3 separate regions of the Homo sapiens genome follow, and regions 2 and 3 are each linked to region 1. The links come from fine-mapping of genetic effects on gene expression. A gene starts in region 1. Each other region holds a variant in brackets. All regions are shown on one strand. Distances are between the middles of the regions.

What was found.
Region 2: its variant is fine-mapped to the expression of SIGMAR1 in whole blood (TOPMed, PIP above 0.99).
Region 3: its variant is fine-mapped to the expression of SIGMAR1 in B cells (CEDAR, PIP 0.95).

The regions. Positions count from the first base shown.
Region 1 is chr9:34,636,675-34,639,435 of GRCh38, reverse strand. It overlaps SIGMAR1 (sigma non-opioid intracellular receptor 1), which reads left to right and starts at 1,649. Exons shown (of 4, transcript NM_005866.4): 1 at 1,649-1,889; 2 at 2,016-2,216; 3 at 2,347-2,439. The coding sequence starts at 1,739. RefSeq lists a silencer at 1,410-1,899.
Region 2 is chr9:34,683,221-34,685,981 of GRCh38, reverse strand. It overlaps a transcript of PHF24 not described here. Among named protein-coding and RNA genes, the nearest start is that of CCL19, 6.7 kb to the left of the region's middle. The variant T/C (reference allele first, on the strand shown) is at 1,386.
Region 3 is chr9:34,670,521-34,673,281 of GRCh38, reverse strand. It overlaps a transcript of PHF24 not described here. Among named protein-coding and RNA genes, the nearest start is that of CCL27, 9.2 kb to the right of the region's middle. The variant GATGA/A (reference allele first, on the strand shown) is at 1,471.

The sequences.
Region 1 (2,761 bases):
CTGACTAATTTTTGTACTTTTTGCAGAGATGGGGTTTCACCATGTTGCCAAGGCTGGTCTCGAATACCTGGACTCAAGTGTTCCGTCTGCCTCAGCCTCCCAAAGTGTTGGGATTACAGTTATGAGCCACCTCGCCCGGCCTCAGTTTCTTTCTTTAAGGTCAAAAATGTATGAGGCTACTTTTTTCCAGTTCCTTTATGTTTTATATATATAACCATCACATAAAATTCTCACCATGTGAGGCACTAACTGCTTTATAAATATTAACCCATCTAATCTCATCACAATGAAGATATGTACTATGAGGTAGGTACTTATCTCCATTCCATTTTACAGGTAAGAAAACTAAGTTACAGAGATTTTAAGTAAACTGCCCAAGATCAGACAACTAGTAGGTAGCAGGAGCCAGGCCTTGAACTCAGGCAGTCCAGCTCCAGAGTTTATTTCTTAATCACTGCACAATGCTACCTCTTTTCTCTTTTGTTTCTTTTCCTTTTTGCTTTCTTCTTCCTCTGCCTACCCTTTGCTGTTGGTGCTCTCCAGGGCTCTGTCTTTAGCCTTATCTTACTCTATTCTCTCTCCCTGTGAGATTTCATCCATTCTTAGAGGTTTTCTGTAGACTCTCCAGTGAGATCTCTAAGCTGGGGAGTAGGACCATTGTTTCTAGCCATATCCCTAATGGCCACCACAGAACTTGGCACATACAAGTGCCAACAAAGTATCTGAATGAATGACAACTCCCAGCTCTATCTCCAGACTGGAGCTGAGCTTCGAGACCTGGACACTCAACTGCCCACTAGACATGCAAAGGATGTTAGCCAAATAAGGGGAAAGTGGGGATAGGATAAAGGGGGAAAGAGTATTCCAGGAAGAAGAGATCAAGCCCTGCCAACTCCATTTCCAGAGTTGTTAAGCTCATTTCTTTCTTCCATCTCCACTGACACAGACCTTCCCTCTTACCTGGCCCACAGTCATGGTCTCCCTGACTCATCTTGCTCCCCTCCACTCGACAGTCCTGTGCCACTCGGTGGCAAAATCTAATCCCCTTCCTCCCTTGCTGATAACCCTCAGCTGGTTTACAAGGCCTCCTCTCACATTTTGTGCCGCAGAACAGAGAAGGAATTGTAGGCCCCTGAAGACCCCAAGCTGTCTCTCCTCGGAGGCCTTTGCTCTAGGGGCTGGTCCCTGTGGGCTGGCATGCCCCTTCTGCGAGCTCTTAAAGACACTGCTCAGGTGTCACCGCCTCTGGAATGCCCACCCTGGGGCTCCCAGCTTGAACTGCCTCCTCTCCGCTTCAGTCCTGGTAAAGGCGGGCCTTAACAATCGTTGAGTCCCAGAAGGCTTCACTTCCGGGCTCGTCTGCTTCACCAGCCAGTGAGCTCGGGCGAGCCCGTCCATTCTGGGTCTCACTATCCCCACACCTATCCGTATGTAGAGTGGCGCTAGCTAGGTCAGACCTCGCCTGAAGACCCTGACATCTGCCGCTGGGCGACTTGGCCCCGCCCCCTTGCCTCCCTTGCGCGGCACCGCCCCACTCCTCCGTGCTCCCCCCGAGGAAATGGTTCAACCGAAGGGCGGTGCCAAGGTGCCCGGGCCGCTCCGATTGGTCAGGGCGAGCCGTACCACGGCGGTGGCGGGGGAGCGCTTCGTGGGCAGCCGGCGGGCTCCGAGGCCGTGAGCGCAAAGCCTCAGGCCCCGGCTCCCTCCTGAGCTGCGCCGTGCCAGGCCGCCCGCCGGGATGCAGTGGGCCGTGGGCCGGCGGTGGGCGTGGGCCGCGCTGCTCCTGGCTGTCGCAGCGGTGCTGACCCAGGTCGTCTGGCTCTGGCTGGGTACGCAGAGCTTCGTCTTCCAGCGCGAAGAGATAGCGCAGTTGGCGCGGCAGTACGCTGGTGAGCGGGCAGAGGGCAGGGAGGGGAGCGGCCGGCCTGGGAGCGGAGCCTAGGGTTCCGAAGGCGCCATCCCCGGACCTAGGACCGGTGCCAGCCCTGACTCCGCCGCCCCTCTGCCTCCGCCAGGGCTGGACCACGAGCTGGCCTTCTCTCGTCTGATCGTGGAGCTGCGGCGGCTGCACCCAGGCCACGTGCTGCCCGACGAGGAGCTGCAGTGGGTGTTCGTGAATGCGGGTGGCTGGATGGGCGCCATGTGCCTTCTGCACGCCTCGCTGTCCGAGTATGTGCTGCTCTTCGGCACCGCCTTGGGCTCCCGCGGCCACTCGGGTCAGTGCTAGCGGCGGGCCAGACTGGGAGGCTGGGGTTGTAAAGGGGCCCATGCCCTCCTTTCTGATGTTTGGCTGGGCCATGCAATGGCGCGAATACCCTGATAGTGTCATGTGCGATTGTCACTCAGGGCGCTACTGGGCTGAGATCTCGGATACCATCATCTCTGGCACCTTCCACCAGTGGAGAGAGGGCACCACCAAAAGTGAGGTCTTCTACCCAGGTGGGTAAGAAGGCTCTGTCAGAGAAGTGGGTCCCTTCACGCGGGGGGTGCCCACAATTGCGGGGAGCATGGCATGGAAAAGGAGTGTGTTGGGGGGGCCCTCCTCATGGTTCCCTTCCTCCACCCTCCCATAAGCCACAGGTGATTGGTTGGGGCAGAGCTGAGGGACTCTTGCTTTCCTCTGTCAAGGGGAAACAAAACATAACAACTTCCTATTAAACATGTCTGATTTTTATCTGCCCAGGCACAATTTTGCCCAGACAGTATTCCAACAACTGTTGGGGAGACAATGGGTAATCAGAAATGCTCTCAATACCCCAAA
Region 2 (2,761 bases), 47 kb before region 1:
TGCCCAGGATAGACAACTAGAAAAAAGGCAGAGCTGGCGTTCCTGTCTGGGCAGTTTGGCTCCAGAATATCTACTCTGAACTATTACACATACCACTTCTCTGAGTTGACCTATCTCCTAATTACAAATGGAGAACAGTACAGCAAGGCCAGATGTGGAGAAGCAGCCCATGGAAATAGGGAAAGCCACTACTTTTGGGTGCTGGCCATGTGCGAGTCTCCAAGCTGAGTCCTTTCTTGGCACTACATCACTGCACCCTCAAACGATCCCATGAGGTATCATTAGTACCATTCTATGTATAAGGAATTTGAAGCACAGAGGAGAATGACCTCCCAAGTCAACTCAACTGGTGAGTGGCAAAGCTGGGATTGCAGTCTAAGCCTGACTGATGGGCAGCACTTGGACTGAGGGCTGGGGGCTGGGAAGTCTAGTTGGGGTAGAAAAGCTCAGCTTGCTAGAAAGAGCTGGGGAAAAAACAAGAGAGGAAGCTGGTGGCCAAAGGTGGGGTCCTAACACTTGAACCCAGACACAAAGACACACCCTAGAGGGCTTCCAGCTTCCTGGGCCTCTGCAGTAGAAGGAGCATCAGCTTCCCCAGAGCCTCAAAGAGGGAGTTTACTCAGGCCTCAGTTTTCCCAACAACAGAGGAGTAGAGAAGGGGATTGGGCTACAGCAATGCCCACCCTACTCCTATTCCCAGGGGAGTATCAGATGCCAGGACCTGGTGATATTGAAAGGAAATGAGGAATGTAGGAAGAGTGCTGGGGATCTGGAGGGTAGGGGTAGAGGCAGGACAAGGAACCTTGTGACAGGCAGGGCTCCTGGAAAGGAGTGGGGCCAGGCGTCTGATCGGCAGGTGGCAGAGGACCTCTGAAGAGCAAAGCATCTGAGGGCAGCAAGGCAGCATCAACTCTCAAAAGGCCCATTTCTGAGGGACACTTCCATCTCCCAAGGGGCCAGGGGCAGGCAGGGCAGGGTTGGAGGAAAACAGCAAGGACAGAACCTCTAAGGATCAGGGTAGATGAGGGAATCAGGCCTCCCCACCCTACTTCTAGGGCCTTTGGGTCTTCCCCGTGGCTCCAGGGGGATGCAGAAGATGTGAGCCACCCTCGGCTCCAACCTGGCAGAGGTGGGAAAGCTTTCACCCCAGCCACAGGAACACTACCATTCTGGGACAACCAGATCTCCTAGGGCTTTTGATCTCAGAATCCCAGTCCCTGGAAATCTGAGCCTAACACAATCCAAACCCCAATCACCACGTCGACCTCATTCCTGCCAAACCATCATTTCAAGGGTCCTCTCCCAAGAGGAAGCCAGCCCTTCTGTCAGGGCCTCAACACTGCAAAGTGCTCATCAGTTGAGGAACCCCCATTCCTGATAGGATG[T/C]CCCAATGCCTATTATGTCCTCATTGCTGACAGGACACCCATTAATGTCAAGGTCCCCCCATTACTATCAAGCCACCATTCCTCTCAGGAAACCCTACCACTGTCAGGAACACTTAAACCTGTGAGGCAGGACAGCAGCACTGCACAACTCCAGGGGGCACCATCCTCTCTGTAGTCTACGTAAATGGCTCCTGGTATGGCAGCACTGAGTGCCAGAGTATCACTCTGAATGTTAGTGTAAGGCCCCCAGTAGTCTCAGCGCTGCCATCACATAGGTTTCCAGCCCTGGGAAAACCCCTCACGTCTAAAGTGATGCCTCATCACTGTCTGCAACCCAGAACACTTATTCATTCCAGGCACTATTCTAGGTGCTGGTGATACGATAGTGAACAAGATAGATATGGTCTTGGTCTTCATGAAGCTTCCCCCTCTCCTCCAAAAACAAAAGGCAAATAAACAAAAGTGTGGATCAGGATTCTTACTTGCAAGCCACTGAAACTCACTGGCTGATTCCAACAGAAAAGGAGTTTATTAAAAAGACCCTGGGAAGATGCAGAAAATAGCGAGAATAAGTGAGCCTAGGCAGCCAGAACCACTCCCAGAGCATACGGTACAGTACAGATGGTCCAGATAGGCCTCCAAGACAGCATGGTGGCACCACCAAAAGGCGATGCCAAGTGGCCAGGACAATGCTTATGTCCAGACAACTGGGGCCCTTGCCCTGCATCCCATGTTTTAGATGACCCTGATCTGGCCCTCCTCTAATCATATCTCTGGACACAGGAAAAAAAAGTCCACAGGACGAAGGGAGCACCCACCCAGAACTCATTCTTTTCTTCTAGACCATATTTCAGGAATTGAAAAACAGAGAATTTCCTGCCCAAATGCCCCCAAGTAGCTTCCAATATCATTATGGGCCTCTTCCTCAGATTTGTTCTTCCTAGGATAGACTATGTTACTGATATACACACTACCAGGTCCAGAGGGTAGCCAAGAAGTAGCTATTTGCAGGGAATGTAGAAGGAGCTTGTATGTATGGGGCTGGAGTGTTTACACCCAGACACGTGAGACCCTTCATGGTGCAGGATAGAACTGTGGATAGGAAGAGGAGAGGGACAAGTGGAGGGCTGGTGATGGGCTCTCCCCTTACCACCTCATTCCATCATGGATCTCCAAGGAGTTCAAGAATTCTCAACTTGAACCTAGCCTCCAAGTTGTTTTGAAAGTATATATTTTGGCCGGGCATGGTGGCTCACGCCTTTAATCCCAGCACTTTGGGAGGCCAAGGCGGGTGGATCACCTGAGGTCAGGAGTTCGAGACCAGCTTGGCCAACATGGCAAAACCCTTTCTCTACTAAAAATACAAAAATTAGCCA
Region 3 (2,761 bases), 34 kb before region 1:
CCCAGGTTAGAGAATCCTCCTGCCTCATCTCTCGAGTAGCTGGGACTGCAGGTACATGCCACCACGACTGGCTAATTTTTGTATTTTTAGTAGAGACAGGATTTCACTAGGTTGGCTAGGCTGGTGTCAAACTTCTGACCCCAGGTGATCTGTCCGCCTTGGCCTTCCAAAGTGCTGGGTTTACAGGCATGAGCCACCATGCTCTGACTAATCTTTTTGTGTAGGGATCTCATTCCTGTCATAGACAGGTTGCTATGGTTTGAATATTTGTCCCCTCCAAAACTCATGCTGAAATTTAATCCCTGGCTGGGCATGGTGGTGCACACCTGTAGCTGTAGTCTCAGCTACTTGGGAAGCTGAGGCAGAAGAACTGGCTGAGACCAGGAGTTCAAGGCTGCAGTGAGCCATGATCATGCCACTGCACTCCAGCCTGGGCGACAGAGTGAGACTTCGTCTCTTAAAAATATATAACAAATTAAAAATAAATAAAAGAAATTTAATCCCAAATGTAGCAATATTGAAAGGTGGGGCCTTTAAGTAGTGATTGGGTCATGAGGGCTCTGCCTTGATGAATGGATGAATCCATCCATGGAGTAATGGGTTATTATGGGTGTGGGACTAGAGGCTTCCTAAGAAAAGACACGGGCTAGGACACTCAGCCCCCTCACCATGTGATGCCCTGTGCCACACCTCACGACCCTGCAGAGAGTCCCCACCAGCAAGAAGGATCTCACCAGGTATGTCCCCTCAATCTTGGACTTCTCAGCCTCCATAACTGTAAGAAATAAATTATTTTTCTTTATAAATTACCCAGATTTAGGTATTCTGTTAAGAAACAGAAAATGGTCTAAGATACAGGTGCTCTTCTAGTAGCAAGAAATATGGCCACTAGAAGCCTTAAGCCTAAATTTTTATATTGATTGATCTAAAAGAGACTCTCTTTCTCCTAGCATCCAAACATCAAATCTCATAGAAAGCTCTGGTTAACTGTACTTGTGATACATACTCAGTTCTTCAGTCTATCACAGTGGCCAGGAAAAGGGGTACTCTGATCAGAGCACTGTAGCTGACAGCCCCACCAAGACCATGTTAAGTGGGAAAGGAGTTTCCTACAGGAACCACAAAAAGGGGTATAGAAAAGTAGAAAAGTGGTCTGCATAAACAAAAACAGCCCACAGCAATCCACTTCATAGATTTGTCATGAGACAATGAATTTAAAGCATTTTGCATGGTGCCTGGCACTTAAGTATCATAAATGTTAATTATTACCATAACTGAGAGACAAACAAATGAAGGGAAACAATAAATGAATAATGGTTGAACATACAGATGAACAGGTCACAATGAATATATGAAAAAATAAATGAAAGATGAAAGAAGGAAGAATGGGCTGATGAAGAGATAAAGATGAGTAGACATATAGACACATGGATGGATGGATGGATGGATGGATGGATGGATGGATGGATG[GATGA/A]GGCAGAAAAATACAGGCAATTAAATCTGCTCCACTATATACTCTAGATCTGGAATGGGAAACAGAATAGCACTCCACAATAGTGTCTTCTGAGAGGTCTATCTCTTGGGTCTGGCAGAACAGTTCTCTGGGTGACCGTACACTGACCCAGTTCTCCTCCCTTTCTCACTTGGAATGCAAAATCTTGAGATAAGGAAGAGGTGACAGAAACAGACAAGGAACAGGCTCTCTTCTAGTCCCACCCCAGAAACAATATCCTTCAATGTTTTAGCCCAGGAATTCACATTGCCCTGGGGTATAAAACCCAAGGCAGGCTGCTTTCTGGAGTCCTTGGCTGCAGTGCAAGTGCAGCATAGGCAGATGAAGCCATCTGCCCTGGGCAGCTTTCCTGAGCCTTGGGGGCTGCCTCACAATTAATCCTGGGATTCTGTTTCCCTTGCTGCCTACCTGAGAGTAATAAATCCATTTCATATAACTTGTTGGATGTGTTCTCCCACTGGACTCAGACAAATTGGCAACCAGTACACAGTAAGCCTGCTTCTCAGGACTCCCTCATTCCTTTCTTTTCCTGTTACTCTGTGAGCAGACCAAACCCTCTCCTCAAAAATCCCTCTCAATTCCCAGGATAGGGAGGCCACGGTAGAGAATGGGCATGTTCTAGGCCAAGTTCTCCTCCAGCTATTCTAACTCAGCTCTGGGGCATAGGAAAATGGGTCAATAAGGGAGAGGGACAGTGCTGGCTGGGCCAGGAAGGTGAAGTCCTAGAGTCCAGAGATGAGAGATAGGGGAGCTGAACCTGCTTCCAAAGAATGTTCCATTTAGCTTCACTTTCCAAGGGAGGAATGGATCTCAGATGGTGGATATATAGGCACTGTGATAGGCCCAGGGAGGTCTGGAGAATCTGGGAGAGGACCTTCTCATCCTTACCCTGCTCTTGTGATTGTCCCTCAGGGAATCTAGTGGGTGGCTATGTCCCATCTTTCCCACTCCTCCTACTCCCAGGTATCTTAGTACTACAGAGAAGAGCTGGCAGTGAGGAACCTAGGGAGGAGACACATTCCTACCTCTGACCCTAATCTTGAACCAAACCCTGACTCCCAGCCTTGAGACTGATGGCTCAAATGCCTCCAAAGGAGCAACATCACAAACCTTGCAAATCTTCCCCTAATGGTAATAGTGCAAACTCTCCTCCCCTTGTCCAAACTGCTTATTGCTGAAATTCTCGGAGCTGAAGCCAAAAAGTGAAAAACAGGTGCAGTCTACTGCGGAGAGTTGTGAAAGAGAAAA